4 separate regions of the Homo sapiens genome follow, and all the other regions are linked to region 2. The links come from fine-mapping of genetic effects on gene expression. A gene starts in region 2. Each other region holds a variant in brackets. All regions are shown on one strand. Distances are from middle to middle. Region 1 holds the start of CATSPER1 (cation channel sperm associated 1). Region 2 holds the start of PACS1 (phosphofurin acidic cluster sorting protein 1). Region 3 holds the start of LOC124902833 (small nucleolar RNA U13). Region 4 overlaps PACS1 (phosphofurin acidic cluster sorting protein 1).

Region 1 (8,083 bases), 46 kb after region 2:
AGGGTAGAGTCTTCTCTTTTTCTTTCTTTCTTTCTTTTTTTTTTTTGAGATGGAGTTTCGCTCTTGTTGGAATGGTGTGATCTCAGCTCACTGCAACCTCCGCCTCCTGGGCTCAAGCAATTCTCATGCCTCAGCCTCCCAAGTTCCCAAGCAGCTGGGACTACAGGCGCACACCACCACATCCAGCTAATTTTTTGTATTTTAGTAGAGACAGGGTTTCACCATGTTGCCCAGGCTGGTCTCAAACTCCTGAGCTCAGGCGATCCACCCGCCTTGGCCTCCCAAAGTGCTGGGATTACAGGTGTGAGCCACCATGCCCAGCCCACACAAATTGTTTCTTTGTCTGCTGCTGGCAACAGATAGTGAGCTCCTTAAAACAGGAGCCGTGTCTCTTTCATCACTGGGAACCCAGCAGCCACTATGGACATGGCTCTGACCAAGCACTCAAGAAGCTGAGACCCATAAGCTTCCAGAAGAGCTGCGCTGTGCACATATGAATTCAGCATACAGGGCAAGCTCTGCAGTGGATTCCAGGAGGAAGACAGGACAGCATGAAGGTTACAGATACAGACTTGGAGTGAGATAGCACTGACGGTAAGTTTTCATTCATCAAGCAACTCATTTATATTCTCTGAGCCATAGCACCTTTGTCTGTCAAATGGGGATAAACAATATCTACCATGTGGGGCTATTGTGAGGATTAAATTTAATGTGTATGGGCCGGGCACGGTGGCGCATGCCTGTAATCCCAGCACTTTGGGTTGTCGAGGCGGGCAGATCGTTTGAGATCAGGAGTTCGAGACCAGCCTGACCAACAGGGTGAAACCCCATCTCTACTAAAATACAAAAGAAGTTAGCTGGGCGTAGTGGTGCACGCCTGTACTTTCAGCTACTTGGGAGACTGAGGCAGGAGAATTGCTTGAATTCAGGAGGTGGAGGTTGCTGTGAGCTGAGACCATGCCACTGCACTCCACCCTAGGTGACAGAGCAAGACTGTGTCTCAAAAAAAAAAAAAGAAAGAAAGAAAACAAAATGTGTATGAAGCAATCCTCAATAAATGATGGCTGATAGTTTAATTTTGGTAATAACCCTAAAGGGGGGTTCCAAGATCAAGAAGAGAATAATAATGCCAATTAACATGTATTGGCCAGGCATGGTGGCTCACACCTGAAATCCCAGCACTTAGGGAGTGCGAGGTGGGTGGATCATTTGAGGTCAGGAGTTCAAGAGCAGCCTCGTCAACATGGTGAAACCCCGTCTCTACTAAAAATACAAAAATTAGCTGGGTGTGGTGTGCACCTGTAGTCGCAGCTACTAGGAAAGCTGAGGCAGGAGAATTGCCTGAACCCAGGAGGCAGAGATTGCAGTGAGCCAAGATTGCACCCCGGCACTCCAGCCTAGTGACAGAGTAAGACTCTGTCTCAAAAAAAAAAAAAAAAAAATTAGCCGGGGTGGGGTATGGTGGTGGGTGGCTGTAATCCCAGCTACTCAGGGGGCTAAGGCAGGAGGCTCACTTGAACCTGGGAGGCAGAGATTGCCATGAGTGGAGATCATGCCGCTGCACTCCAGCCTGGGTGACAGTGAGACTGTCTCAAAAAACAAAAACAAAAACAAAAAAACATGGGCTGGGCGCAGTGGCTCACACCTGTAATCCCAACACTTTGGAAGGGCAAGGCAGGCGGATCACGAGGTCAGGAGATCAAGACCATTCTGGCTAACATGGTGAAACCCCGTCTCTACTAAAAATAGAAAAAGTTAGCCGGGCGTGGTGGTGGGCGCCTGTAGTCCCAGCTACTTGGGAGGCTGAGGCAGGAAAATGGCATGAAGCTGGGAGGTGGAGGTTGCAGTGAGTCAAGATCGTGCCACTGCACTCCAGCCTGGGCGACAGAGCGAGACTCCATCTCAAAAACAAACAAAGAAACAAACAACAACAACAACAACAAAAACCATGTATTATGCTGTTAATATAAGGCTTACATATCTTAACTTTTTTGATCCTGTGGGCTAGGTATTATTATTCCCATTTTACAGAGGAAGAAACTGAGGCACGGGAAAGTTCAGCAACAAGCCCAAGGTCACACACCTACTTATGAGGGAGTCAGGCAGTCTTCACCCCAGAGCCAGCTGATCTCTAGATGGGACTGAAGACTGGACCACTTGGACCATTTTCTTTCCAACAACAGGGCTAAAGTAGCTGATGAAGCCATGGCGCCCCCATGGACTTCTTTGTCCAGCTTTGCCAGTGACCTGTGAGGTCACCTTGGTCTAGTCCTTCCCTTTTCTTGACCTCGGTTTCCTCATTTACAATGAAGGAGTTTGACACAATAATTCTTGATTCCGAACTATAGCCCAGGAAGAGGCATTTGGGAATGAGGCCCTGGCCTGCTGGTGACATCATAGAGGGGAGAGTTCCACGAGAATAGTCAGGCCTTTCTGGAAGCCCAGTGCCACAGTCTGCATTGAGCTTGGCTCAGGAAAGAAGGGAAATCCAGGCGGGGCCTGTTGGGCCCAGGTCTTGAGCTCTTTTGGCTCCAGAGTTCCCAGCACAGTCATGGATCAAAACTCAGTGCCTGAAAAGGCTCAGAATGAGGCAGACACCAATAACGCAGATAGGTTCTTTCGCTCTCACTCATCACCCCCACACCACAGGCCAGGCCACAGCAGAGCTCTCCACCATTACGAGTTGCACCATCACGGCGTGCCCCACCAACGTGGTGAATCTCACCACCCTCCGGAGTTCCAAGACTTCCACGACCAAGCCTTGTCCTCCCATGTCCACCAATCTCACCACCACAGCGAGGCACGGAATCACGGCAGAGCCCATGGCCCCACAGGCTTTGGTCTGGCTCCCTCTCAAGGCGCCGTCCCCTCCCACCGTTCCTACGGTGAGGACTACCATGATGAGCTCCAACGTGATGGCAGGAGGCATCATGATGGGTCCCAATACGGTGGGTTCCATCAGCAGAGTGACTCCCATTACCATAGGGGGTCTCACCATGGCAGACCCCAATATCTCGGTGAGAATTTATCCCACTATTCCTCTGGCGTGCCCCACCACGGTGAGGCTTCCCACCATGGTGGGTCCTACCTCCCCCATGGACCCAATCCCTACAGTGAGTCCTTCCACCACAGCGAGGCTTCCCACCTTAGCGGGCTCCAACACGATGAGTCCCAGCATCACCAAGTCCCCCACCGTGGCTGGCCCCACCATCACCAAGTCCACCACCATGGCAGGTCCCGTCATCATGAAGCCCACCAGCATGGAAAGTCTCCTCATCACGGAGAGACCATTTCCCCTCATTCCTCTGTGGGGTCCTACCAGCGTGGGATATCTGACTATCACAGCGAGTACCACCAAGGTGATCACCACCCCAGTGAGTACCACCATGGCGACCATCCCCACCACACACAGCACCACTACCACCAGACCCACCGGCACCGAGACTACCATCAGCACCAAGACCACCACGGCGCGTATCATTCCAGTTACCTCCATGGCGACTACGTCCAGAGCACTTCCCAACTCTCTATCCCACACACATCCCGGAGCCTGATTCACGATGCCCCCGGCCCTGCTGCTTCTCGTACAGGAGTCTTCCCCTATCACGTAGCACACCCACGGGGCTCGGCTCACAGCATGACTCGGTCCTCCAGCACAATCCGCTCACGTGTCACCCAGATGTCCAAAAAAGTCCATACCCAGGATATCTCCACCAAACATTCAGAAGACTGGGGCAAAGAAGAAGGGCAATTTCAGAAACGCAAAAGTGAGTCTTTGCTGGGCCCCCCATGCCAACTCCTGCTGCCTGGCGCAGGATCCAGACCTGATCTCGGC[C/A]CCGCACTGTCCTTCCGCAGATCGTAAGGCCCGACCCTCCTGCACAGGTCCCCCACTGGCTATTCACTCTCCTGACTGTTCATGGTCCCATCTTTTATTCCTTGAATTATGTACCTCTTTAGGCCATGAGGTGTTTGTTCATTCAGTCACTGCCTTATTTATTCATATGTCTACCAGTCAAACATTGATACTCATCCAATGTGGGTGTGTGGCCTGCCTGGGCCATGGCAGCATGGGGAAAAATTCAACACAGTCGCTGCCCTCGAGGGGCCCAAAACTAGGAGTGGTCACTTAGCTGACCACAGATCATCCTGTGCTCGGGGCCTGCCCTCAGAACATTTACCATGGTGGATTCTATCTGTCCAGATTTCTCCCACTCACCTGTGAGCTGCTTGAGAACAGAGATTAGGAACTAATGCCTGAATGAGGGCCTTATTGGAGGGCAAGGAGGGACCATGGCCTTTAGCTCATACGCCACCAAACTTTCTTCCTAGTAGTTCAATAAACATGACAACAGGCCAGGCGCGGTGACTCACGCCTGTAATCTCAGCACTTTGGGAGGCCGAGGTGGGTGGATCGCTTGAGGTCAGGAGTTCAAGACCAGCCTGGCCAACATGGCGAGATCCCGTCTTTACCAAAAAAATACAAAAATTAGCTGGGCGTGGTGGTGCACCCCTGTAATCCCAGCTACTTGGGAGGCTGAGGCAGGAGAATCGCTTGAACCCAGGAGGCAGAGGTTGCAGTGAGCCGAGATCGTGCCACTGCACTCCGGCCGGGGTGACAGTGCAAGACTCCGTAGGAAAAAAAAAAAAAAAAAAAAAAAACAAATAGGCTGGGTGCGATGGCTCACATCTGTAATCCTAACATTTTGGGAGTCCAAGGTAGGTAGATTGCTTGAGGTCAGGAGTTGGAGACCAGCCTGGCCAATATGGCAAAACCCTGTCTCTACCAAAAAAATACAAAAATTAGCCGGGTGTGGTGGTGCGTGCCTGTAATCCTGGCTACACAGGAGGGTGAGGCAGGAGAATCTCTTGAAGCTGGGAGGCGGAGGTTGTAGTGAGCCGAGATCACGATACTGCACTCCAGCCTGGGCAACAGAGCGAGACTCCATCTCAGAAAACAACAACAACAACAAACAAAATATGACAACAGTCTCAGGAACAAGCAGAGAGGGGCAAGTGTGTTATTAAATGGGGACAGGAAAGGCAGCCCAGAGGAGGGAACATTTCATCAGGACCTGAAAGGGAGAGGATAAGTTTACCAAGAGGATGGGATGATGAGGAGGGTGGGTTTTCCATATGTAAGTTGCCACGTGAGCAAAGAAAGGCATGGAGGCATAGGAGTGGGAGCCCTCAGGATCCCCAGAAGCCAACTCCAAATCCCCAACAGGCTGGCCCCTGCCACAGAAGGCACAGGACCAGCCTGTTGGGGATTTGCTGGCCAGGCTGGTCTCAAACTCCTGGCCTCCAGTGATCCGCCTGCCTCAACCTCCCAAAGTGCTGGGATTACAGGTGTGAGCCATTGCTTCTGGCCACAATTATGCCCATTTTAAAGACAACAAAACTGAGACATAGAGCAGTAGTGAAGTCGCGCAGCTGCTTACCCAGAGCTGGAGAGAGCCTGGGAATCCGGGCTTGTGTGAGGCTCATGCTGAGGAGAGAGAGGGCACTGGGTGCTGGGGACAGCCCTGAGCGCACCCCTGTGTCCCTGCAGAGTGGTACTTCATGGCCTTGGACTCCATATTCTTCTGCATCTACGTGGTGGAAGCCCTGGAGGCCAGGAGTTCGAGACCAGCCTGGCCAACATGTTGAAACCCTGTTTCTACCAAAAATACAAAAATTAGCCGGGCGTGGTGGCAGGCACCTGCAGTCCCAGCTACTTGGGAGGCTGAGGCACAAGAGTTGCTTGAACCCGGGAGGCAGAGGGCCAGCAAGCAGGCAGGAGTGACCATGGACGCTGAGCCAGGCTGGGGGGTGCCTGGGACCTCGTGTCCCCTCTTGCACACACTTGACTTTCTGGCCCTGTTCCTTTCAGCCGGCCGGCTCCAGCGGACCCGCAAGAAGGGACACTCTACCAATCTCTTCCAGTGGCTGTGGGAAAAGCTAACCTTCCTCATTCAGGGCTTCCGGGAAATGATCCGGAACCTGACCCAATCCTTGGCCTTTGAAACTTTCATCTTCTTCGTTGTCTGCCTCAACACCGTCATGCTGGTGGCCCAGACCTTCGCTGAAGTCGAGATCCGGGGCGGTAAGAGCCAGGGAGTCCTGTTCCCATGGAGAAGCCACCGATGCTCTTCCAGGACCTCCGTGGGCCTGATCCAGTGCCGGGCGGTTTATAGGACTCAGCTCACTTGATCCTCACCCCTGGGAAGTAGATGGCCTTACCCAGTATTAGAGAGCGTCTCAGAAAGACCCCGCTGAGGCCGGCCCGAGACAGAAGGACCCGCTAGGCGGGAGGCGGTGCTGTTCGCGCCGCAGCCACTAGGGAGCGCATCTGCTCCAAATGTGCGGCTGAGGGCGGGCGGGCGCCTGGAGCCCGAGCTTCGCGGAAGGGCCGGGAGCCCGAGAAGGCCCTGGAGGGGCGAGGATGTAAGGTCGGGGAAGGCTGGGCCCTCCAACGCCGTGGAGCAGGGTGAAGGACAGGAGCTGCCCGGCTCGCTGTCTCAGGCTCCATTCTAAGCACTTCGCTTGTGTTCATGCATTTAACGCTCACAACTCTATCAAGTGGACTTCAATTATCCCCATTTTATTTTATTTTATTTTAGACGGAGTCTGGCTCTGTCACCCAGGCTGGAGTGCAGTGGCGCGATCTCACTGCAACCTCCGCCTCCCGGGTTCAAGTGATTCTCCTGCCTCAGCCTCCCAAGTAGCTGGGACTACAGGTGCCCACCACCATGCCCAGCTAATTTTTGTATTTTTGGTAGAAACAGGGTTTCACCATGTTGGCCAGGCTGGTCTCGAACTCCTGACCTCCAGTGATGCGCCCGCCTCAACCTCCCAATGTGCTGGGATTACAGGTGTGAGCCACTGCTCCTGGACACAATTATCCCCATTTTAAAGACAAGAAAACTGAGACACAGCAGTAGTGAAGTCGCGCAGCTGCTTACGCAGAGCCGGGGAGAGCCTGGGAATCTGGGCTTGTGTGAGGCTAATGCTGAGGAGAGAGAGGGCACTGGGTGCTGGGGACAGCTCTGAGTGCACCCCTGTGTTCCTGCAGAGTGGTACTTCATGGCCTTGGACTCCATATTCTTCTGCATCTACGTGGTGGAAGCCCTGCTCAAGATCATCGCCCTGGGCCTCTCGTACTTCTTTGACTTCTGGAACAATTTGGGTGGGTGCGGCCGGGGCCAGGCTGCGTGTGTTTAGTCTGGGGGAGGCTCGGGACGAGAGAAGGATGGGGAAGGGGGCGCTGGCGTTGGGAGCCCGCCAGGCTCAGGCACCCCGTGCCCTCAGACTTCTTCATTATGGCCATGGCCGTGCTGGACTTCTTGCTGATGCAGACCCACTCCTTCGCCATCTACCACCAAAGCCTCTTCCGGATCCTCAAGGTCTTCAAGAGCCTGCGGGCCCTGAGGGCAATCCGGGTCCTGCGGAGGCTCAGGTCAGTGGCCACGGCTCCCACCTGGGGTGGGGACTCCAAAGGAAGAGGGGACACAGACCAGGGCCCCAAAGAAATCCACTGTGACCTGCTCAAGGGATGGGGGCGCAGGAGGCTGCTGACCCCAGCCTGCTTCTGCCTTCTGTCATGCACTGGAATCAGCCCCTTCATTTTTCCAGAGAGGGGCCAGGACTCACCCAAGTCACCAACAAGTCAGGAGCCTCCTGCCTTCAGCGCCAGCTGTGGCTGCTGGGCAGAGACACACACCCCCGCCCCTCACCGATGACTCAGTCCCCACTCCTTCTGCCCACAGCTTCCTGACCAGCGTCCAGGAAGTGACAGGGACCCTGGGCCAGTCCTTGCCGTCCATCGCAGCCATCCTCATCCTCATGTTTACCTGCCTCTGTATCCTGGTGCTGCAGGGGCTGGGGTGGGGGCCTGAGGGGCTGCGGTGAAAGGGGTGCGGGGAGCAGGGATGGGGCAGGACGAGGGGCGCTGGGGTGGGGATAGCACTGGAGAGCTGAGTTTGGCCCTGAACAGCCAGTCCTCTTCTCCGCGGTCCTCCGGGCACTGTTCCGCAAATCTGACCCCAAGCGCTTCCAGAACATCTTCACCACCATCTTCACCCTCTTCACCTTGCTCACGCTGGAT
Region 2 (8,102 bases):
GTTTGTCCTAGTATATAGTAAGAAGATAGAGTAGTATATCTTGGCTCGTATAGTGCTTCTGTGGTTAAAGGGGCAAATGCCCCCAAGCGTTTTCATGAAAGTAACACTTCTGCTGCAGACCAGTCATGCCAACTCAGCTATGGCCACCTTCTGTGATTCCAACGCTTTTGTCCATTAAGGCTTGACCTCAGCACCCACTTAAAAAAAATGTGACCTAAGGAGAAAAGTGACTGATAACTGCCAACTCCTACCCTAAGTTCACATACACATAAGGGTATGCAAATGGGCTTTGGATATGGTTTGCGAATGATACAGCAGAGCACATTTCATCTCTTAATAATCACTTTTATGCCACTGAGGAAATTTTGAATGCTTGTAAAATTTAGTAATTTTTCTGCCTCTCCTACTTACAGCAACACAAAAAGAAAAGAACATCAGGGAAACCTCACCATACAAAGGCAGAAGGGAAGGGATCAACAATGAGGCTCTAACACCCTTCCTTTAACATCAAGCAGCATGCCACCTGGTCCCCATAACCCTGCACCACGGTCCATGCCATACTGGACCATAGTAGAGGAAGTACTACTTAGCATGAAGGGAAAACAATGCTAACTTCTAAAGCTTGAATTTCATAAAAGATAAAGGAACTATAGCAAAACTACCTTTTTGTAACAGAATCTTAAAAGCCAACTGTATTTCACAGTGATTACCTCTGGGAAGTGAGAAGAGGGATGGACTGGGGGCTTTTTCCTTTGTGCTTTCCATCTTTCCATACTGCTCAAATTTCTAATCATGGACATATATTAATCATTTTGTCTTTAAAAAAAATGCTGGTAAAAGGCTGGGCACAGTGGCTCACACCTGTAATCTCAGCACTTTGGGAGTCCGAGGTAGGAGGACAGTTTGAAGCAAGGAGTTCAAGACCAGCCTGGGCAACATAGTGAGACCCTGTTTTTAAAAAAAAAAAAAAAAAAAAAAAAAAAGCCAGGTGTGATGTCACATGCCTATAGTCCCAGCTACTTGGGAGGCTGAGGCTGGAGGATTGCTGAGCCCAGGAGTTGGAGGCTGCAGTGAGCTATGACTGTGCCACTACACTGTAGCCTGGATGACAGAGCAAGACTCCATCTAAAGAAAAAAAACAAAAAATGCTGGTGAAAAATGTGATCAACAGAACAATTTCATTCTTTTAAAACCAGCTGTGAGTAAGCTATTCACCTATATAAAGTTTTTCAAAAGTACTATGTATTCTGGGGGAATTTAACAGATGTTAAATAAGAGCAGACACCTACCTGAAGAACAACTACACTGCTCTTTATTTAAATATCTAATACAGGAAACGGTATTTTTTTCAAAAGAAAATTATATTTTGACAGGCATCAAGAAAAGCAGCAGGACCTTCCTAACACTGTACTGTTCGAGCCCCTCTTCTCTGCCCTAAGAGACCAAATCCCATGACATTCTTATGCACACCTAACCTTAGATCCACAATCATGTTTACATTTCTAAGGGGCATGTATCTCATATATTTGTGTCCCGTTTGAGTTACATGAGACAAGAATGTTAATCCCTCCACAGAGTGCTGCATGTTGCCTATATATTCTAAACAACATGAACAAGGACACCCAGGAGACCTCAAATTAACCAGATGACTCTAATAATTGGAAAGACCAATGGCAGGCCATTTTCTCCCCACAGAGTGTTATTCTGGCCTGCAAAATGCTCAAAGAGCACATGTGTTCCACAAGGAGTGAGGAGGTACAAGGGTGATGGATGAAAAACAATGTCGGAGCAGGACAGTGGACAAGCTCAAGGACTGGTCAGTAAACGTGACGTAACTGCACACTCCCGGAATGTAAAAATAAGTCCGCCTAAGCCTCTCACAGCAAGTTAGCATAATAATTATACATTTGATCAGGATGCCTGGCTGTTTCTTAGGCTAATAATTTATTACGTGGACTTTGCAGTGACCAAAAGACCTAGGGGCAGACCAAACATCAACAGCAGTCAATGATTTCATTCACGCCCCTCTGCTGCAGCTCCTTGCCAGTAGGCTCGCGCCTTTTCAACCTAACGAGATGGAGAAGGCAGCTGCCCAAACGTCACCAAACACAGGCATGAAAGTGAAGGAGAAATGGGAAAGACTGGACCCACGTAGGAAGGAACACAGTGTTTCTATGTGTGAAAGAGGTGGGTTAGGATACTTCAGCGATAGATGGGCCTGTATAGAAAGAGAGAGGCCTGCTTAGGATCAAGAGAGGAACACCATCACATACTCAACTCTCGCTTGAGCTTGGTGTTGTGCTATGGATCTGGCCACAGCAAACTAAATTAATGTGGCTCCTGATTTCCCTAGAGAAAGGACAGAGAAAAAAAAAACAATGTGTAAATCTGTTAAGTGATGTGGAAACACAGAGTGGAAGCAGCCTGTGGAAACAATCTACTTTTGCCTAGTGAAGTCCCAGATCTATACCCTGCGAGCGGCAATCCCACCCCTCCATATGAATACAACCTAAAGAAACTTCTGCACAAGAGCACTAGGAGTCCTGGGGGGAAATGTGTGCATTACTGTGGGTGTTAAACAGGAAACAACCTACATATTCAAGAGAATTACGGTATATTCATTCACACAACAGAATACTACCCATCATGAAAATATTTAAACTATGGCTACCATACCACATGGATGATTCTCACAAACCTAATGCTGATTTAAAAAAAAATAAAAAAACCAATCAAGTCACAGAACACATACAGGATGACACCATGTACACAAACTTCAAGAACATTCAGAACTATAAAATATATAGAGATGCATTATGTAGTAAAACTAATTTTTTTCTAACAAGGGAAATGATAAACACAATTCAAAATAGTGTTTACCTTTGTAGAAGGAAGAGGGGAGACAGTCAGGAAGGGGCACCCTGAGAGCTTCAACAGAAGCGATAATGCTCTGTTCCTTAAGCTGAGCGAAACAGAAAGATGTACTCTCATCATTCCTATCTGGGATATATATATAAAACAATATTATCCAGAATAAAGGTGGGGAAAGGAAGACAGTCGAGGGGGGAGCCCAGCAATCCTCTCTAACTCTGACTTACACATCCGTCTGCCTAACCAACAGTGAGGAGACAGCCCAAGACTTCAAGGCAACAGAATCAACTCAGCTACAAGGTGACAAAAAAGAACACCTCCAGGCACTTCTCTGGGCTTTCTGGGTGAAACCAGCTCCACACACCGTCTTATTCAAGTGGCAAACTGTAAGACACAGCACCCTGTCCCCAGAGTTGGAGACAGACTGCCTTGCCAATACAAAAACAGAAAATATTCCCAAACTCAGGCCTATTTTGCCAATGGAAGGAAAGTCCCCAGATGGTTCCAACAGACAGAGAGCAATGGATTGAATTTAGGAACAAGGCAGTAATTTCATACAGCCCTGCAGAGCTGGGAGATTCTGGGACCAGTTTTAGTGGGGGAGGGGAGGTAAAAATACACTTGAGGACACATTAAATAGGGCCCCAAAACTAAGAGCCTAGCGCTTGGGACAGAACGTGTGTAATATGAAGTTCAAATGAACATGTGTGCCGAAGGCTAATGAGAAGCCCCTAGGGTGATTATATGAGCTTTACCTGCAAGAGGTGACAATCGAGTTTGGCACATGCTGAGTCTATTGGGAAATAATAATATCAAGAGATCTATACCACATCCATGTATGTACAGCTCCCGGCGCCGGCGAGGCAGGAGAGTGACTTACTCAGGGAAACTGACTGCCAGGAAGGCCGGATTCGGTCAGCCCAATCGGAGAAAGCCCGGGGCCGAGGCCAGAAGGTCCCTCGGGGAGGACAGAAGGGTGGTCCCGGCCCCAGGCAGAAGGTGGGGCTGCCAGGAGAGGGCGGGTCCCCGTGGCAGGAGTCCCGGGAGGCCTGGCTGGAGCCAGGCCGGGCCGCGGGACAGTCGGGGAGATGGAGGGCGGGGACCCCATGGGCGCTGGGGCGGGGAGGGCTGGGCCCCGGCGGCCACCCCGCTCCCCCGGCGCCCCGCCGCACCCTCCCGCGCTCACCTAGGCACGCAGCTGGACGAGCTCCGGTCCACCTCCCAGGTGGCGTACAGGTTCATCTGCACCGGGGCGGGGGTGCGGCCTGGCCCCGGGCCACCGGGAGGCGCGGAGCCCGAGGCCACCGCCACGGCCATGGAGGTGGAGGTAGACGAGGACGAGGAGGAGGCAGCCGCCGCCGAGGTGGACGAGGACGACGAGGTGGCCTGGGCCAGCTTGGGGGGCGTCGGCTGCTGCGGCGGCTGCTGCTGCTGCTGCTGCGGCGGCGGCTGCTGAGGGGACTGGGCGACCCCGGATCCCCGCTGGCCGCTGCCGCCCCCGGCGCCTCCGGGACCACCGCCCGCCCCTCCGCGTTCCGCCATGGCCCGGCTAGGCGGGGGTTACGGAGGCCGAGGCGACGCCGATCTGGCTCCCAGGCTTCCCCCGCGGCGGCGGCGGCGGGGGCGCGGCAGCCTCCTCAGCCCGCCTGCCCGAGCGCGAGCAGCCAGCGAGCTGCACGCACGCGCGGGGCCTCTGGGCGCGCGGGCCTCGCGCTCGACCGCCGCTGCCTGTTGCGGCTCGCGAGGCCGACACGGGTGGGCGTGTCCGGGAGGGGGCGGGGAGCCCGGCCCGCGCGGCCCCACCCAGCGCGGAGGGGCCGGGCCGGGCGCGCTCGCGCCCTGCGTGCAGCCACGCGCGCCCCTCGCTCCCGCGGAGTAGAAGGGGTGGTCTGTGGCCAGCGCGCGCCCACGGGTCCTGCCCTCAAATCCGCTGCCAGTCTGCCCCCGCTCCTCCCCTCCCCGCCCACGGCCGGCCGCGGCCCCGCCAGCGGAAACCCGGCTTTTCCGGGATTCGGTCCCTGCAGGGAGGGGGCCGCCGCGGGAGCGCGCCTCGGCCCCTCGGGTCTTCGGAGCCAATGCGGAACCCGCCCCCAGCGGTGGGGGTCTGCCCGGGGAAGCCGGCTCTCCGCCTGCCGACCTAGCCCTGCCCTGCGGCCCCGGCAAACAGAGAGGTCGGCGGAGACCCGGGGCCCGCTGCCACCGCGGGTGCCTGTGATCCGGGAAGTTCCCGCCCCGAGGGCAAGCGGGGGCTCAGGGACCTGGAGTCCAGAAGGTTCTTCGCATAAGTGAATTCTCAAGCTACCCCGGGGCCCATCTGGAGCCAACCTTCCTCTTCTTTCCCTACCCCCCAAATGCCTCTTTAGAGTGCCAGTGCTTTGTTGCTTACCAAATTTCTAAAATTCCATTCCTCCTAAGGCCTAGCTCAGCTGCCACGTCCTATCTGGATCATGCCCCCCACAACCCCGAGACCATCTTGAACCCTCCGGCAAGTGAGCGCCTCCACTGGTGCACTTAAACACCAACAGTAGTACAACAGCAGCGCATGACTACCCTCCCCACAGGCTGGCAAATGCCCATGGGAGCCAGTGATCCAGCCTGCTCTAGTCTGTCAGAAAGGCTGCTCAGGACCAGATTACAACCTGGAGAAAGTAAGTCCCCCCATCCCACATACAAATCCCAAACCCCAGCGACTAGTGTTGCTTGAACCCAAGGGTTCATATGGACTCAAGACAATTTAGCTTTTGAGCTATGTTGTCGCACAGGTAAGGACTTGAACTTCTGGTCACAAGGTCAGTTGGGAAGGCCTGCCCTGGCCTACTTCCCAAGCCCACTGTTACTTCCTCTGCCGCGCTAGGGCGCTAATCTGGCTATTTTTACTCCCCAAGGACAAAGTAGTAAGGTCAAACCAGACCTAGAGGTACTTCCCCCAAGCCTTCCTACAAAGCAGGGCAGTGGTGAAACACAGATTTCAGCCTGGGGTTGGCGTCACCACCAGTCAAATGCGCCGTCTAATCCCAGTTTATGTTCGTGGTTACTGGGGCAGCCCAGTGATTGTAGAAAGAGACTATTTTAGTCCTTTTGCAAGAAGGGGCTAAAAGGAGATGAGGGAGGCTCAGGAGTGTTAAATATTCATCTCTTTCCTTGGGAAACAGCTTTATTTACAAAACAGGTCTAAAATAAGAACATGAAATGACAAGTCCTTGGGAACTGCGGGAGAGGTGGTTCTTGTGTGAAGCCCAGGCATCCAGACGTAGGGCCAAAAAAAGGGCTAGTGTGAGGGGACCTAAAACTTGAACTCCTTATATTTCTTGCTGCCCCCACGGCTGTCCTGGGGCTGAGCTTTCCGTTTTTTTTGCTGTATAGGGAGAAAGAGACACAGGTTAAGACAGGTTGAACCACCCCCGGACCCCCAAAACAAGGGTGGGCAGCCTGACATAGACATAGAAGTCTGTGGGAAAGGCGCTGAATCTGAATTCTCTTCGAGCTCCCTCTCAGACTTGGCTGAGTTCCTCCCCCTCATCGTCCTTAAAGAGGGCAGCCCACTGGAGGATTTCTAAGACTTCCAAATCTAAGGAAGCACAGAGCAGCAAGCAGAGGCCACCCTCACTCTCACCACTAGAGGGCACCATGCCACTGAAAACGGCAGGCCAGGGTCCCTGGCTCTCACCCAGCCCAGCGCCCCTGGAAGCGCCTACCTTCTGTTTGGCAGCGTGCTCAGCCACCATGTCACTGAAGTCCTCCTTCTCTACTTGAGCCTGCTGCTCCCGCACATGCTCCTCATACTTCTGGGTCATGGCCATAGGATCCAGCTCCAACTCTTCAGGCGCCAGCGCCACTTCCACACCTTGCAGCTCAGGAGCCGGGCCCTTCCGGCTCATAACCTGGAAAGGAGATCAGGGCCTGGTCATCTCCAAAGAGTCAGAGAAGCCCTAGCTTCTGCTGCCTTTCTCAGCCTCCAAAAGCAGTATCCTCCAAGTACTCACCGTGGACATGTCATAAATGTGGGTTGATCCCATCATGGCCCCTCCAACAGTGGCTGTTCTCTTCTCTGGCAACACAGTGAAGAGCTGAGGTGTCTCACTTCTGCGAAGGACAATGGGATCAGGCCCAAAAAGCAAGGGACAAAAGGGTCTCCAGAAGCGGAAACAAAAGATACAGGTGGCACCTCCACTCAGCGCCTTGGAGAGCTTCTGAGCTCCCCAAGGATGCAGCCTCTGCAGTTCTGCCCATGACAGAAAAGAATTGGGCGGGGGGGTGGCACAGTGCTGACTCCAGGGAACACAGATGGAGCTAAGGGGCCCCCTGAATCAAGTCAAGGGATCACAGACCAGGACTCCCACATGCACATAAGGGTCAAAAGGTCAGAGAGGCTCAAAGTTTCCAAAAGAACTTTGGTACAGAGAAGCTGGCAAGATAGAGCAGGCGACAACAGTTCCCACCCGAAGAATGTCATGCCTGGAGTTCTCATGTATGTAATTCACACTTCCAGGCCTTCCAACGCAAGAGCCATCCACAGCCAGTTTCACCACTAATTTCAAGGATTACACTAGGAACAAGAGCAAATCTACCACTATCACCCCAGACTATGCCCATCATCTCCACCTCTCCCGCTGGAAGAGGTGACAATCTATTGTCCACACAGGAGCCAGAGAAAATACCTTAAAACGGATGTCGGGTCCTGTCAGACCTTTGCTCAAAACCCTCTGAGGCTTCTGATCATTATCTGAATAAAATCCAAACTCCTTACCATGACCTAAAGGGTTCATAGCCTGGTCCCTTACCCAAGCCCTCCTCACTATACTCTGTCCACAGTACCCTTCTTTATTTTTCTTCCTTGAATATGCAAAGCTTGAGACTTCTGCTTCCTGACAAGGAGCAAGAGGAACCAGATACACCCTCCTGCCTGAAACAACCAAAAAAAATGGGCAAAATATATGAAACAGTGGTTTTCAAGACACTACACATGGGGCAACAAAGCACAGTGATTCCTGCGAGACAGGAAACAAATGTGATGAGCCCTTCAACTGCCCCAGCATACCACACCTGAGAGTTTGCAGGCCACAGAACAGAGGGGAGACTCATGGAGAGCCCTGAGGACTCCGTGAGTTGGGAGGATGAAACTGAAAGTCCAGGGAGATCAAGGCAGCTAGAGTTCACAGGATAGAGTACTGGAGAAAAGAGCAGAGAGAGAACTCGAGACCTACAGAAGGTCCTCAAGTATGCAGGGGAGT
Region 3 (8,102 bases), 79 kb before region 2:
CAGTCTCGCTCTGTCACCCAGGCTGGAGTGCAGTGGCACCATCTCGGCTCACTGCAAGCTCCGTCTCCCGGGTTCACGCCATTCTCCTGCCTCAGCCCCCAGAGTAGCTGGGACTACAGGTGCCCACCACCATGCCGGGCAATTTTTTTGTATTTTTGGTAGAGACGGGGTTTCACCGTGTTAGCCAGGATGGTCTCGATCTCCCAATTTCGTGATCCGCCCACCTGAGCCTCCCAAAGTGCTGGGATTACAGGCGTGAGCCACCGCGCCTGGCCAGGTTTTTTATTTTTTAGGTAGAGAAAAGGTCTCACCATGTTGCCCAAGCTGGCCTCAAACTTCTGGGCTCAAGCAATCCTCCCACCTTGGCCTCCCAAAGGGCTGAGATTACAGGTGTGAGCCACTGTGACCAACCTATATGTACATTATAAACCCAGCACTAGAGTGTTATAAAATCTTTAAAATCTTGTTTCTTATGTCACCAGCAGGCACAGTGGCACATGCCTGTAGTCTCTGCTACTCAGGAGGCTGAAGCAGGATGATAGCTTGAGCCCAGGAGTTCAAGGCTATAGTGCACCATAATTGTCCTTGTGAATAGCCAACACACTCAAGCCTGGGCAACATAGTGAGACCCCCATCTCAAAAAAAAACACATATGTATCTTAAAGAAATTAGAGAAGGAAAAAAATCATAGTCTTTTATATTTACCTACATATTTACTATTTCCAATGCCCTTTATTTCTTCCTGTAGATGAGTTACCACCTGGTATCATTTCCCTTCATTCTGAAAACTTCTTTTAGTGGAAGTCTGCTGGTGATGAATTCTCTCAATTTTTGTTTTTCTGAAAATGTCTTTAGCCCTCATTTTTGAAAATGTGTTTCTCTGGATACTGGATTCTTGGTTGACAGGGTTTTTCTCTCAGTATTTGACTATACTGTTCCAGTGTCTTCTGGCCTCCTTCATTTCTGATGAAAAGTCAGTCACATTTGTAACACTGATCCCTTTTATGTAATGTGTCACTTTTCTCTACCTGCTTCCCCTCCCCATGCAAGTTCAGAGACGTAATGTGCTGATGTTGTAACAAGGTTCAGAGGGTGGCACACCTCACACACATGCATGAACACCCAATCGTCACACTCATGAGCTGCAAAAGGATCTCTATCTGCTTTTAAGATTTTCTTTTTATCTTTGGTTTCAGCAATTTGACTATGATATGCCTATGAGTGCTTTTCCTTTGTGCTCAGACTCCACTGAACTTCTTGAATCTATAGTGTTTTCTACCATATTTAAGAAGTTTGGGGATATTATTTCTTCAAATATTGTTTTTTGCCTATTTTTCTCTTCCCTTTCTAAGACTCCAAGTACACTTATGTTAGGCTACCTGATATCGTCCTACAAGTCTCTGAGGCTCTACTCACTTTTCTTCAATCTTTGCTCCTCTCTTCATTGGATGGGATAATTTCTATTGATCTATCTTCAACGGCACAGATTCTTTTCTCTGTCATTTCAAAACTGCTGTTGAGCACATCTAGTGAACTTTTTTTTTCTTTTGAGACATGTTGTCAGCCAGGCTGGAGTGCAGTGGCACGATCACAGCTCACTGCAGCCTCGATCTCTTGGGCTCAAACGATCCTCCCACCTCAGCCTCCCAAGTAGCTGGCACTACAGGCACATACCATCATGCCTGGCTCATTTTAAAATTGCTTTGTAGAGGTGGGGTCTCACTATGTTGCCCGGGCTGGTCTCAAACTCCTGAGCTCAAGTGATCCTGCTGCCTTGACCTCCCAAAGTTGTGGGATTATAGGTGTAAGCCACTGCACCCGGCCTCCAGTGAGTTTTTATTTCAGCTATTACTTATTTGAGCTCTACAACTTCCATTTTTTCACTTTCCATTTCTTTGTTACAATTTCTCTATCTGTTCACTTATTTTTCCTTTAATTCTTTGATCATAGCACAGTGGCTTTGCAGTCTGCCTGCAAAATCCAACACTGTACCCACTTAGATGCTCAGAGTCAGTCTCTACTGACTGCTTTTCTTCCTGAGTATGAGTTAGACTTTCCATTTTATTTACATGTCTAGTAATTGTAGATTGAAAACTTGGCATTGTAGATAAGATGTTATAGCAACTCTGGATTCTACTGTGTTCTTCTGAGAACTTTCTCTTTTTATATTCTAGTAGGCAGTTAACTTGCCTGGATTCAAACTGCGAACTGTCTCTCCTGTCGTATGAAGCAGCTGCTATCTCTGCTCAGCTCTTACAACGTCTAGCCTAGCTCCCTGGGGTCTCCCATGCTTCTGTGTAATCTGGCAGACAGCCAGGGATTTAGGCTGATCATACTCAGATTTAGGGGCTCACACTCTGTGACTTTTGTGTTCTTGTGATTTCCTCCTAAGTTTTCAGCTGCTTGGGCAATATTAGGGTCTTTCCTCTGAACCCCAAGCCAGTAAGGCTTCAGCTTTCCACTGCTTCGCTGCTCACAGTTTAGGGATATACTGTTTTAAAAAGCATGAACCTCACAGATCTCATCTAGTATAGGTCTGTCTTTTAAGGGTAGATTCCTCTCTAGCCTCTGCCTGCTTGCTTTGTTTCATTGGTTGGCTGGTTTTTATTTTTGTTTTTGTCTTGCTGGGCTCCCTGGGATTTCACTATACATTTAGAGTTTAATAGTCAACCAGGAATTTGGGCAGTTTTCACTCAGATGTGGGGCCTCCCCCTTTCTGTAGTCCTCTCTTGTTTCCAGGATTCCCCCCTGAACTTTCCAGCTTGTCTTCCATCCCTGACTTCTCTTCTTTGGCACCTCTCATCTGTAAGGCTGCAGCTTTCCACTATCATTTCTTTCTACTGAAACCACCATGGGTACTGATGCATAACCTCTGGCAAAAAAGTCACAAACTTGCAATTCTTGCTCCTTCTATTATAGTGTTTCAGGAGTCAATTCTCCTCAGGTTCTAGGGACAGCTTTTGGATGCTTTTAGTTGTTTCTTATATTTTACCCAGATCTTTCAATTGTTATCTGTAGGAGGGTTTATGCAACCACTTCAATCTCCCTTAATGGAAATTTCCTCTAATCCAACAGAAAGTAATTTACTTTTTGGATTTTTAAATATAACACCTTACTTTTAAAGGCATAGTGCTATAAACAAAACATTTAAAAGTAACACGTTTTCAAGTAATGAACAATAACACTTCAGTGGCAAAGTCCTAATTGTCTTTAGAAATTTATTAGATCAAATATTCCAAATGTTGCATGTGATAAAGTCATATAGCAAAGGTAGAAAGGCTTAAAATGTTTCTTTTTTTTTTCTATTTTAGTGAAAAGGAAACAACATAAAAGAAAAAGAATAGCTCAGTTAGATATAGGAATTCTGTTCCTAGAAATAGAATCTGTTTCCTGCCTAGAAGTCAGCAAAACCCAGTCTGTTCTACATTTAGTAACTGGAGAAGATGGGAAAAGCTAGAGCTCTTTGTTTCGGTTTTGTTTTGGTTTTGTTAGTCTCAATGGTTATTTTTGGGAGAAAGAGAAAGAACGTATGTCAGTGGATCAAATAACTGTATATAGATTACTGTATTGGATTCCAATTGCTGTAGAGAATAATTACTATTTTATATGTCTTTAATAAAGTATAAATATTCACAGATGGTCTGTTATGTGCAAAGCACTATATGATAGGAATAGAGAGAGGGGATGTGGGGGAGAAATTGAACAAATATGAATAAGATCAGTTTTGGCCGAGCGTGGTGGCTCAAGCCTGTAATCCCAGCACTTTGGGAGGC[C/T]GAGACGGGTGGATCGCCTGAGGTGGCAAGTTCGAGACCAGCCTGACTAACATGGAGAAACCCCATCTCTACTAAAAATACAAAATTAGCCAGGTGTGGTGGTGCATGCCTGTAATCCCAGCTACTCAGGAGGCTGAGGCAGGAGAATTGCTTGAACCTGGGAGGCAGAGGTTGCAGTGAGCCGAGATCATGCCACTGCACTCCAGTCTGGGCAACAAGAGCGAAACTCCGTCTCAAAAAAAAGATCAGTTTTGCCCCCCAAAGATCTTATAATGTACTGAACAGACATGTAAAACACACACACACACACACACACACACACGAACACAAGATGTGGAATGGATGTAGAAAGTGCTGTTTATAGACCGGGTACTTGATTTCATCTCACAATTTCAAATACAAAGTTAATGTTATGCTATGAGCTACTTTTTAAAATGTGTATGTTTATAAAATATTTGTTTTTAAAGTAATAGTTTGAAAAGTAGAAAAAGTAGAAACACACAGTAGGAAAAAAACCTCTTATTTTGGAAATATATAATAAAGTGGAACAATCCTATAAATCGCCAGAGAAGATCACTATTAAAAGGCTGAAGAAAAAAAAGTGCGTGTTGGCTGGGGATGGTGGCTCACACCTGTAATCCCAGCACTTTGGGAGGCCGAGGCAGGCGCATCACCTGAGGTCAGGGGTTCGAGACCAGCCTGACCAACGTGGTGAAAACCTGTCTCTACTAAAAATACAAAAATTAGTCATGTGTGGTGGCGCACGCCTGTAATCCCAGCTACTCGGGAGGCTGAGGCAGACTTGCTTGAATCCAGGAGGCAGAGGTTGCAATGAGCCAAGATCACACCATTACACTCCAGAATGGGTGACAGAGGGAGACTCTATCTCAAAAAAAAAAAAAAAAAAAAAAGTGCGTGTGCATGTGCACATGCTCACACATACCTTTGAGCATATACTTCTGTGCTGCTCAATCTCTTTTCGACCAAATGCATCACATTTAGCAGCTGTTAAGTGGACACCTTTCCATGTTAAAACATATATAGTGACTTCATTCTTTTTTGTTTTGTTTTGTTTTGAGATGGAGCCTCACTCTGTCACCTGGGCTGAAGTGCAGTGGTGCAATCTCGGCTCACTGCAACCTCCACCTCCCTGGTTCAAGCAATTCTCACACCTCAGCCTCCCAAGTAGCTGGGATAACAGATGCACGCCAACATGCCCAGCTAATTTTTGTATTTTTAGTAGAGAAGGGGTTTCACCATGTTGGCCAGGCTGGTCTTGAACTCCTGACCTCAAGTGATCCGCCCTCCTTGGCCTCCCAAAGTGCTGAGATTACAGGCGTGAGCCACCGCACCCGGCCTGACTTCATTCCTTTTAATGGTTATAATAGTTAGTCAAAATAAATATACTACTTACTTAATCAGTCCCTTTCTGATGGGCATTTGACTTTTTTATAGTTCTTAGTTATTACAAAGTTATTGTAGTGTTTCTATGATATGTGTTCTTAAAACTGAAAGTGCTAAGTCAAAAGGACTAAACATTTAAATTTTTAATGGCAGGCCAGGCATGGTGCTCACACCTGTAATGCCAGCACTCTGGGAGGCCGAGGCAAGAGGATCATTTGAGGCCTGGAGTGTGAGTACAGCCTCACGAGACACCCATCTCTATAAAAAATACAAAAATTAGCCAGGCATGCTGGTGTGTGCCTGTAGTCCCAGCTACCTGGGAAGCTAAGCTGAGAGGATCACTTGAGCCCAGGAGGTCAAGGCTGCAGTAAGCTGTGATCACACCACTGCACTCTAGCCTGGGCAATAGAGTGAGACTCTGTCTCAAAAAATAATAATAATAATTAATTTTTAAAAAGTACATTTTTAATGGCTACTGCCCAACTAGCTTTCAAAAGGATTATGCCAATTACACTCAACAAACTACAAGAGAGTCTCAGGTATTTTTTTTTCCTTATGTCTTTTGTTATTATGGCCGTATATTTCATTTCTAAATTTTAAAAATTTATTTTTAATTTTTGTGGGTATATAGAAGGTGTATATATTTATAGGTTATTTGAGATGCTTTGATATAGGCATGCAATACCTAATAATCACATCAGGGTAAATGGGGTATCCATCATCTTAAGCATTTATCATTTGTGTCACAGACAATAATTAGTTATTTTTATATCACAATTATTTCTGATTACAGTCACACTGTTGTGCTAGCAAATACTAGCTCTTATTCATTCTTTCTTTTTGTACCAATTAACTAACCCACTTCCCTCCCACTACCCCCTAACCTTCCCAGCCTCCAGGAATCACCCCTTTACTCTCTATTCTACATGTTTTAACTCCATAATACATTGTTATTATTTTTGCTTTTTACTGTCAATTACCATTTAGAAAAATTACAACATTAGAAAATTTCTTATGTTTACCTACATACTTACTATTTTTAGCATTCTTTATTCCTTTAAATTGACTCAAGTTTCCATTGTTATCATTTTCCTCTTACCAGGAGAATGTTCTTTACTACTTTAAGCCTCAGCTATTTTTATATATTATCTTACATTTACCCAAATATTTGGCAATTTTGGTGTTCTTCCTTTAGTCTTGTGGATCTAAATTACTGTCCATTGGTAGAATTTTCCTCTCAGTCAAAAAAACTTCTTTCAGGTAGATCTCGTAGCAAGCAATTCCTAGTCTTTGTTTATCTAGGAATGTCTTTATTTTGCCTTCATTTTTGAAGAATACTTTTGCTAGATATAAAAATTTTGTTTTGTTTCGTTTTTTCTTTCAGTACTTTGAATATGTCATTCCATTGCCTTCTACCCTACACTGTTTCTGCTGAGAAGTCAGCAAACATTCATACTGTTACAATAAAAAACTTGAGGAGTTATCTTTTTCTTGCTGCTTTCAAGACATTCTTATTCTTTTTGTCTTTGTCTGTTTTTAGACAGTGTCTTACTTGGTCGCCCAAGCTGGAGTGCAGTGGCAGGCATGATGTCGGCTCACTGCAAGCTCCACTTTCCAGGTTCAAGCGATTCTCCTGCCTCAGCCTCCTGAGTAGCTGGGATTACAGGCATGTGCCATCATGCCTAGCTAATTTTTGTATTTTTTAGTAGAGACGGGGGTTTCACCATGTTGGCCAGGCTGGTCTCGAACTCCTGACCTCAAGTGATCTGCCCACCTCAGCCTCCCAAAGTGCTGGGGTGCTGGGGTTACAGGCGTGAGCCACTACACCCAGCCTCTTTTTGTCTTTGCCTGTCAATTATTTGACCAGGATATGCCTAGGTGTGGATCCCTTAATATTTATCCGATTTGAAGTTTTCATAGATTCATGATTTTCATCAAATGTAGGAAGTTTCTGGCTGTTACTTCATACATTTTTTTTCTGCCCTTTCTTCTCCTTTCCTTGTAGGAGTCTGTGACATGTGTGTTGGTATGCCTGATGTTGTCCCACAGATCTCTGAGGCTCTGTTCATTTTTTTCTCTCAGGTTCTTCAGATTGGCAGTTTCTATTGATCTATCTTTAAGTTCACTGATTCTTTCTTCTGTGTCTCAAATCTGCTGTTGAATTCCTGTAGTGAATTTTTAATTTTAGTTACTGTATTTTTCATCTCCAGAATTTGCATTTGGTTCTTTTTTACAGTTTCTGTTTTATTGAGATTTATTGAGTCACTGTCATCATACATTTCTTTAAATATTTAAACATGACATGCATAGTTTCCTGTATTTCCTGAACACATGTATAATAGCTGTGTTGAAGTCTTTGTTTACTAAACCTAACATCTAGGCTCTCTCAGAGACAGTTTCTATTGACTGATTATCTTCCCTGAATATGAACCACCCTTTCCTGTTTTTTTTGTCCCATTAGTGTTTGTTTTTCTGTTTGTTTTCTGTAGCCATTCCTTACAGACATAACCATAATAAATTACAGACATAATCATAATTTTAAAAAACTAGATGTTTTAGATAATATATTGTAGCAACTCTCAACTGTAATTTTTCACGTGTGTTATTTCTTTAGTAATTTGCCCTGACTAAATCTACAAAATCTGTCTCCCCTGTGATGTGTGGCTATTTGATGTCTCTACTCAGTTTCTTTTCTTCTTTTTTCCAGTTTTTCTTTTCAAATTCTTGTTTTTATTTTTAAGCCTGACTTGCTGACACACAGCTTAGTGATCAGGCAATGATTGGTTACAGGTTGTGTTTGCATCTCTTGAGCCTACTAGGCTTCCAACCTCTGCCCATGGGTCTGTGCAGGGTTAGGGAGCAAAAGTTCAAGCAGTTTTCAGGTCTATCCCACTTTTCCTTTCGGATCAGCCCTGTCACATTTCC
Region 4 (8,102 bases), 150 kb before region 2:
TAAGGATTTCAGGAGAAAGAGAGTGCAGGACATTCATAAGCCTGCAGATTTAGGTGAAATTTCTATGGTGGTCCTGAGGGTCCTTCTGCCGTTATTTCTAAAGGGACAAACACTATTTGAAACAGCTGAAACAGGAAACTGACCCATACATACCAGAGTGTCTGTTTCAGTCAAGCTGTCATCTTGGTTTTTAATCCAAGTAGATTTAATTTTTTCTAGAGCAGCCAATTCCATCTGCAAAAATTATAAGAATTAGTTATCACTGATCCAAATAACTACCACTTTAATTTGTTTTACTAGGTCCCTATGAAGCTTAAAATACTTTCATTTAATCTCAAACCTCATAAAATCTTCAGGGCTTTTTTCTTATGTGGGCCGGGGAGGCGGGTACATTTCTGTGAAAACCAGGTTTTGGAGGGATCAGTTATCTTTGTCATCAAGTCAATAACACGGAGATTCAGAACCCAGAAATTCTGACTCCACGAGGTGTCACTAGGCAAGAGAAGCTCAAAATTTAGATGGCTTTGCTATTGCATCCATGAAGTCTTTGACCCTGGATCCAGTGAATACACTTGCCCAGGAAGGACATAGAGGGGAGGCCTCCTTTGCTTGCCAGAGAAAGGAGTATGCTAGGTTCAGGTCTTTGATTTTGAGACTAAAGACATCCATGGTAGCCAAATGCTTTTTGCTTGGTGGGAACATCCAGAAAACCCTCTAACAGGATATACTAAGCAGAAAGACACCCAATGTTAAGCCATTTAGGTGTAAATTAATTCTCCATTTGTCCCCAACTCTTATTAGCATTTCTCATAAATATTAAAAATTTCCTTTGCAAATATAGACACATAACCAGATTTTCGTATTTGTTAATATTGCTTCTTGCTGTGCAGACAGCAACTCAAAGTCACCAGCAGTGACGTGTGGGTTGTAGGTCTTAGATGCAGGGAAGGTACTGGCTTTAGTGAATCTTTTTGTTTCTTGTAGGGAACCATAGGAGGCAGAAAAATATAAATGATATCCCACTTCCTCCCAATGACTCAAAGTCCTTTCTCTGAGTCAATCATATAATACTGAGAAGCATCAGGCTAGTAAGTTCAGGGTCACCTAGTAAACTATGGAACAAGGATCACCACAGCAGGCTCCCTATGTCACACTCTAAACCAGGGTTCCTCCACCTTGGCACGATTGACATTTGGGGCTGGCTCATTCTTATTGTGGGGGCCTGTCCTGTGTACTGTGGGATGTCTGGCAGCATCCCTGGCCTCTACTCACTAGGTGCTGGTAGTGGCAACTCTCCACTCCCTCATTTGTGACAAACAAAAATGTCTCCAATCATTGCCATATGTCTGGGAGGCAAAATCATCCCCAGTTGAGAACCCCTGCTCCAGGCCATTTGCAGGACTAACTCAGCATGCCTGAGCCAGACTCTGGGACCCCAGATCTTCAGATGGTTTGGCTTGTGTAATGGCTCACAGCCACAGAACAGGTTGCTTCCAGATTGCAGAGCTAGCTCATTTACACCTTCTCTATATGATCAGCCAATGTTGTTGTTGCTGTTGTTTTTTTGAGACTGAATCTCACTCTATTGCCCAGGCTGGGGTGTAGTGGTGCAATCTTGGCTCACTGCAACCTCTGCCTCCCGGGTTCAAGTGATTTTCCTGCCTCAGCTTCCTGATTAGCTAGGATTACAAGCGTCTGCCACCATGCCTGCCTAATTTTTGTATTTTTGGTAGAGACAGCTTTTACCATGTTGATTGACCAGGCTGGTCTTGAACTCCTGACCTCAAGTGATCCACCTGCCTCAGCCTCCCAAAGTGCTGGGATTACAGGTGTGAGCCACCACGCCCAGCCTCGGCCAACATTAATAGAATCTAGAATCATGGAAAAGCTCTGGTTAGACCTGAGACTAGAGATAATTTCACTCCATTTTCGATCTCAATATGACAAATTAATTAAACGCGTTTTAAAGAGAATGAACTGGGTGATAACACAGGTCTGCTGGGAGGTTTTGAAGTAGCACGCCTTGTTGTTAAGCCCTATGACAGCTACAGCATTGCTTCCATGTCAAAGCTGCAACATTTATTAAGATCTTTATTCCTCCCAGCTTTATTAAGCTATAATTGACAAATAAAAATTGTATATATTTACAGTATACAACATGTTTTGATGTATGGATACACTGTGAAATGATTAAATCAAGGTAATTAGCATATCCATCTCCTGATAATATCTTTAACTTGGATTGGGCTTAGAGGACACCTGCTGGCTATTTACTGGCTCTTCCAGATGTCCCAGACAATCCTCCTGGGGACAAATTCCCAATTTCATCACATTTCTGTTCCTGCTTCTATAAACACTAAAGGGCTTTTTCCCCCAAAAGATGTTGGAACACCAGCAGGACTCCAGCTGTGTCTGACCAAGTGTTTGGCATGGGATATGGATGAGGTATCACTAGAGGTCCCAGAAGTCTGCACCACTGTGCTCATGGACAATGTCAGCTGCTGAAGGGTAAGAGTGTAGGCCCGTGTCAGAGAGAAGGGGGCAAGAGTGGGTAATGTGTAGGCTATCATTTCATGAAGGACTAGGCTCTAATGCCATTATTTATAGTGCTGTGGAAATAGCGACTTAGCAGCAGGCAGTCCTGGCTGGAAGTCTGCATCTGTGGCTGCCCTGACGCACTGTCAGGGCTCATTGTTATCAGCTTGGAGAACCAAATTATGTTGCCATTGTGTGCTCAAGCCTTGGGAAAATTCAACAACTGGAATAATTCGTATCAGGAGAAATTCTTTCTGGTTCTAGCGATAAACTGAATCCTCTAAAATGTGGGGAACAAAAAGCAAGATTAAGAAAAATAAATAAATAACAGTGCTAGGAAACCAGGGAAGAGAGGACACAAGTTGAGGTGGTGCGTGCACACCTGCCTACAGGTGCACAATCTCGTGGTTTTTCCTAATCCATTCAGAAGTTCTCCATTTAAGAGCGCAGTCTGGTTCTGCTGTTCCCAAAGCGCCTTTCATACCAAAGGATTCCAAAGTTTCACACCCACATCCAGACATATGGGGCTCTTCAAAATAGAAATATCAGCACAGAACCAGCAAAGTGAGTCTGAAACGTGGCCAAGGGAACCAGAATTTGAAGGACTCACTAAAAAGACATCTAGATTCTATCAATTTTAGGAGTCCACAACTGAAATGGCACTAAGGAATTATAATAATAAAAGCAATAGTAGTCGGTGAGCAATGAGCAGTGCTCTGTGTGCAGTAAGTCAATCAGGCACACCCCACGCAGCAGTCTGATGTGCATGATCCTGTTCCATCTCCTCACTACCTTGGGAGGCACGAGCTTTAACACGTACCTTGTAGATGAGGAAGCAAAGGCGTGGTAACATGCCCAAGATCACACAGTCAGTGGAGTGGTGGAGTCAAGACTCAAACTCAGAAGCTCTACCCTGTCCCAAATGTGTTTTTGCCCTGACAGAGGCCCTTAGGCCATCATATTATAAAGGCTGACACTCACCTGGCTTTTTTTTT[TTTTTTTTTTTTG/G]AGATGGAGTCTTGCTCTGTTACCCAGGCTGGAGTGCAGTGGCGGGATCTTGGCTCAATGCAACCTCTGCTTCCCAGGTTCAAGCAATTCTCTGCCTCAGCCACGCGAGTAGCTGGGATTACAGGTGTGCATCACCATGCCTGGCTAATTTTGTATTTTTAGTAGAAACAGGGTTTTGCCATGTTGGCCAGGCTGGTCTCGAACTCCTGACCTCAAGTGGTCCACCCACCTCGGCCTCCCAAAGTGCTGGGATTACAGGTTTGAGCCACCGTGTCCGCCCTCAACTGGCTTTTGAGCCAAATGGGCTCCTATACCGACACCACAACCCTACAGATGAGGCACCGAGGCTCAGAGTGTCTAAGTAATTTTTTCTGTAAGTTTTATAAGTCAGGTAACTAACATTTATTGAACATCCACAGTGTTAGGTGTTCTGCTTACTGCTTTTGGGGCACTGTCTCAGTTAGTGATTTAGTTACATTTTGTTATATTAGGGCACTTGCTCTACATTCCTAGAACACTAAGAAAGAGTCCTCCCTCAGCCAGCTCCCAGGTATCTTTCTAGAGTCATCCCATATAGTTAAGAGGGAATTTAGCTCTCATGGCCAGGGGTAGGGTTTGCCCAGTAGGGTTTGCCCATGTGGATGCTGTCAATTCAGCAGGGCCATTCAGCAGTTCCATGTGAGGAAATGCATCTCCAAGCCACATCCTAAACACTAATACCAAAGAAAGTGAGGTGGCTGGGTACACACTGCACTCCAGCCTGGGGAGTACAGCGAGACCCTATCTCAAAAAAAAAAAAATAGGCCGGGCACAGCGGCTCAAGCCTCTAATCCCAGCACTTTGGGAAGCTGAGGCGGGCGGATCACCTGAGGTCAGGAGTTTGAGACCAGCCTGGCCAACATGGAGAAACCCCATCTCTACTAAAAATACAAAAATTAGCCGGGTGTGGGTGGCACGTGCCTGCAGTCCCAGCTACTCGGGAGGCTGAGGCAGGAGAATCGCTGGCACCCGGGAGGTGAAAGTTGCAGTGAGCCGAGATCGCTCCATTGCACTCCTGCCTGGGCGATAAGAGCAAAACTCCGACTCCAATAAAAATAAAAAATAAATTTAGAAAGAGTTTTTTTTTTTTTTTTTTTTTTTTGTAAATCGAGGTCTCCTCAGTTCTTGGATCCCCATGAACCCGGCCTGGAACGGCGTCTAGGGTGCAGGGTCTGCAGGGGCAGGGCTGGGGTTTCTCCCAGGGAGGAGTCTGTTTGGGCTGCAGTTTCCCATGCATTGCCTCACTAACGTCACGTGGGGCGCTGTCCTAAGCAGGAAGAACGGTGAGCTGGGAGAGAGCCCCACCTGGTGGCAACAGGCAGAAGGGCAGCCAGGGGATGCCCCAAGAGAAGGTGGTTTCCAGGACAGGCACCTGCCCTTTCAGACCCGTGCTTTTCAGCGGTAGAGGCCTCTCCTGTTTCCTATCATCTCCGCACAATTACTACCGATCTGCAGGGCGAGTTTGGTATTCCCCCTGGTGAACCATGAGTAGGCTTCATCTGCCAGTAAAGCAGGTGAACAGGAGGACTTAAAGGATTTGTTTCTTTGATCTACAGAAAAGACACTGGGCTTTGGAGGGCAAATCCTAAGCTGGGCACTCACATCGCGACAACACTCACTTGCCTTCCATTGTAAACGAAGGAAGAGCAGCTTCCTAGGGCCTGAGGTCACTTCAGGCTCACACCCACCCCTGCCTGTGATCTGCTGAGGGAGCAGGGCCTTTCTAGGAGGGGCGGAGCAAGGCCCAGGTCGTGGCTCCGGCTGCTACAGTACATGCCCCCTTTTCCCCTTGCTCACCAGAAAAAATGGAAACCTCTTGACTAAATTATAAATTTTCTCGGGGCACTGCTCCCCTCTATGGATTCTTGGCCCAATAAAGCCTACTAGGGCCTCCTGAGCACGTCTCAGTGGCTCCCCTCCTCTCCATACCTGCTCCTTCCCCAGTCTGGTGCAGGGCCACTCACTACTGGCCAAACGCCCACTCCATGCCACACTCTCAGCTACCACAGAACAGACACGAAGGGAGAGGTTTTTGTTTGTTGAGATAAGGTCTTGTTCTGTCACCTAGGCTGGAGAGCAGTGGTGCGATCACAGCTCACTGCAGCTTCTGCCTCCTGGGCTCAAGGGATCCTCCTGCCTCAGCCTCCCAAGTAGCTGGGTCTACAGACGTGCACCACCATGCCTGGCTAACTTTTGCATTTTTCGTAGAGATGGGCTTTCACCATGTTGCTCAGGCTGGTTTCGAACTCCTAGGCTCAAGTGATCCACCCGCCCTGGCCTCCCAAAGAGCTGGGATTATAGACATGAGTCACCACGCCCAGCAGAGGGGGAGATTGTATGTATTCTGAGAGGGAAGGCGCTGGGCCATGGCAGAAACAGACCAAAAGGAACAACCCAGCCTGACACAGCAATGACCCCAAAGAGCTAAGCTCCCAGCCAGACTGAGGGGAGGAAAACTGAGGCTGAAACAAGATGAGGCCATTTTCTTTTTTCTTTTCTTTTTTTTTTTTTTTTGAGGGAATCTCGCTCTGTCGCCAGGCTGGAGTGCAGTGGCTCAATCTTGGCTCACTGCAACCTCCGCCTCCCGGCTTCAAGTGATTCTCCTGCCTCATCCTCCTGAGTAGCTGGGACTACAGGTGCACACCATCACGCCCAGGTAATTTTTGTATTTTTAGTAGAGATGGGGTGTCACCATGTTGGCCAGAATGCTCTCAATCTCTTGACCTCATGATCTGCCCGACTCCACCTCCCAAAGTGCCAGGATTACAGTTGTGATCCACCATGCCCAGCCAATGGGGCCACTTTTCTAAGGTCACAACATGAGCCCTGATCAGAGATGCAGAGGGCCAGAGCGTCGAGCCCTGACATGCCACGGTCCCACCCCGCCCCGCAGTCGCGGTTGCGCTCACAGGGCTGGTGGTGTCTTTTCCGAGGCTGCCTTTGCTGTTGAGGCTGCCAATCTCCGTCTGGGAGCTGGACTGCGACATCCCCTCAAAGAAAGGCCTGTGGTGAAGAGCACAGCCAGGGTCAGTGCTGCCAGGGCTCAGAACAGCATGCTGGGAGAGTTGAATGGAGCTGGCATTCAGGGTGGGTCAACAAGCTACAGGTGTCCAGAACGCCCGGTGAGCAGGGAAGTGCAGGGTGAAGAGGAGGGGCGGGTCAGGAGAGGGGGTACTTCCTGAGAGTCCTATAGGACTTCTGTCAGTGAGAGGCAAAACAGTGACCTTCTCCAAGACAGCCAGAGGTTCAGAAAGGATGAAGGACCAAGATTCTCTGGTAATAGAGGGGACAGCGAGGGAGGGGTCAGGAGACTGCTATGGCCAGGAAGGAGAGTCTGGAGGCCAGCTACAGAGAGGGGGGCTCACTTGAGCTTGGGCTTTGGCGTGCTGAGGATGCTTTCTGTCTCCTCCATCTCAGGGCCACTGTCGCTGGGGTTGTACATCTCCAGACTGTCATACAATTCATCCAAGTCCTCTTCCACTTCCCGGATCTGCTCGCGGGACACATGCTCCAGCCCAAAGCCCACCTGCAGGGAAAAAGGAGTCTCTGAATTTAGGGTCATCCCTATTAACAATTTTGGTTGATGAGCAGCTCCTTTCTCCTGGGCTGCCCTTATAGTCCTGCTTAAGGGACATGCCAGAGCTTCACACTGGCTGGAGTAACCTTCACGTCATTTCCATGATCCAGCCTGAGGGCGGGGACATGGTGAGGCCACCTTCCCCCCAGTTCCTGCCACCGCTCCACACTGTGAAGCTGTGCCAGGAGGGACAGCTGAGGAATCCCGAGGCCCATCGCCCATGTGGGTTCTTCCTACCCTCCTTACAGCTCACAGGAAGGCGAAGCAATCGCTCTCAACAATTTTCATCTTTATCCCTCTGTTAGCCCACTGAGAGGCCTGTGGAAACGGGCCCCTCCCGGAGCCCAGGGAAAAGACTGCTTCTCTCTCAGCAGCCCCATTCCTGGTTATTCCAGGGCTGACCAACAAGGACATTTCCACCTCACAAGCTGCTGCTCACTGATGTTCCCGTGGGATAAGAGGGGAAATTAAGTGACAACCGCAGCAGCATCCGCTGGGTCTGTCCCTGTATCGCATGCCAGAGGCTTGCGCATCACCAAGGGTCGGGCGTAGCTGTGCTGCCCTGCGTTGTGTGCATAGCCTCTCTCTCCTCTGCTTGCTTAAGTCCTTCTTAGCCACCCTCTCCCTTAGGGCTCTACCAGGTATGCCACGGGGAGCAGGAATATTAATCCTAGAATCCTGACTCTCAGTGGCAATACAGAGTGTACTCCAGGGATGCTGGGTGAAACCCGGGGAATTCTACTCACCATTAACCTTGGGAGTAAGAGGCCATACCTCATCTGAAACTTTAAACCGCTTCAGGAGGGCCACAAACTTCTGTTTGATGTTAGGTTGCTGTAGGGACAAATCGCATGACAGTTCTCAGCAACGTCCACTTGGGGTCAATTCAAGTCAATAAACACCCACCAGAGCCCACTTTCATGACGAGCTGTGGGAAGACACGA

Evidence for each region.
Region 1: its variant is fine-mapped to the expression of PACS1 in whole blood (TOPMed, PIP 0.95).
Region 3: its variant is fine-mapped to the expression of PACS1 in lung (TOPMed, PIP 0.98).
Region 4: its variant is fine-mapped to the expression of PACS1 in whole blood (INTERVAL, PIP above 0.99).

What each region holds. Positions count from the first base shown.
Region 1 is chr11:66,020,848-66,028,930 of GRCh38, reverse strand. It overlaps CATSPER1 (cation channel sperm associated 1), which reads left to right and starts at 2,452. Exons shown (of 12, transcript NM_053054.4): 1 at 2,452-3,767; 2 at 5,870-6,082; 3 at 7,052-7,165; 4 at 7,288-7,435; 5 at 7,746-7,837; 6 at 7,977-8,083. The coding sequence starts at 2,552. RefSeq lists an enhancer at 5,780-6,281. The variant C/A (reference allele first, on the strand shown) is at 3,836.
Region 2 is chr11:66,066,798-66,074,899 of GRCh38, reverse strand. It overlaps PACS1 (phosphofurin acidic cluster sorting protein 1), which reads right to left and starts at 4,628. Exons shown (of 24, transcript NM_018026.4): 1 at 4,058-4,628. The coding sequence starts at 4,413. It overlaps SF3B2 (splicing factor 3b subunit 2), which reads right to left. Exons shown (of 22, transcript NM_006842.3): 20 at 6,855-6,954; 21 at 6,567-6,752; 22 at 5,592-6,226. The coding sequence ends at 6,155. RefSeq lists silencers at 3,684-3,888, 3,949-4,098, 4,109-4,238, 4,389-4,438, 4,449-5,068 and 1 more and an enhancer at 6,616-6,775.
Region 3 is chr11:66,145,673-66,153,774 of GRCh38, reverse strand. The region is part of intron 1 of PACS1 (phosphofurin acidic cluster sorting protein 1); the gene reads right to left. LOC124902833 (small nucleolar RNA U13) reads right to left here and starts at 1,154; the gene lies at 1,050-1,154. The variant C/T (reference allele first, on the strand shown) is at 3,774.
Region 4 is chr11:66,219,636-66,227,737 of GRCh38, reverse strand. It overlaps PACS1 (phosphofurin acidic cluster sorting protein 1), which reads right to left. Exons shown (of 24, transcript NM_018026.4): 8 at 7,933-7,992; 9 at 6,947-7,107; 10 at 6,491-6,584; 11 at 154-234. Among named protein-coding and RNA genes, the nearest start is that of KLC2, 34 kb to the left of the region's middle. RefSeq lists enhancers at 3,962-4,462, 4,463-4,963, 4,769-5,008, 5,069-5,168. The variant TTTTTTTTTTTTG/G (reference allele first, on the strand shown) is at 3,531.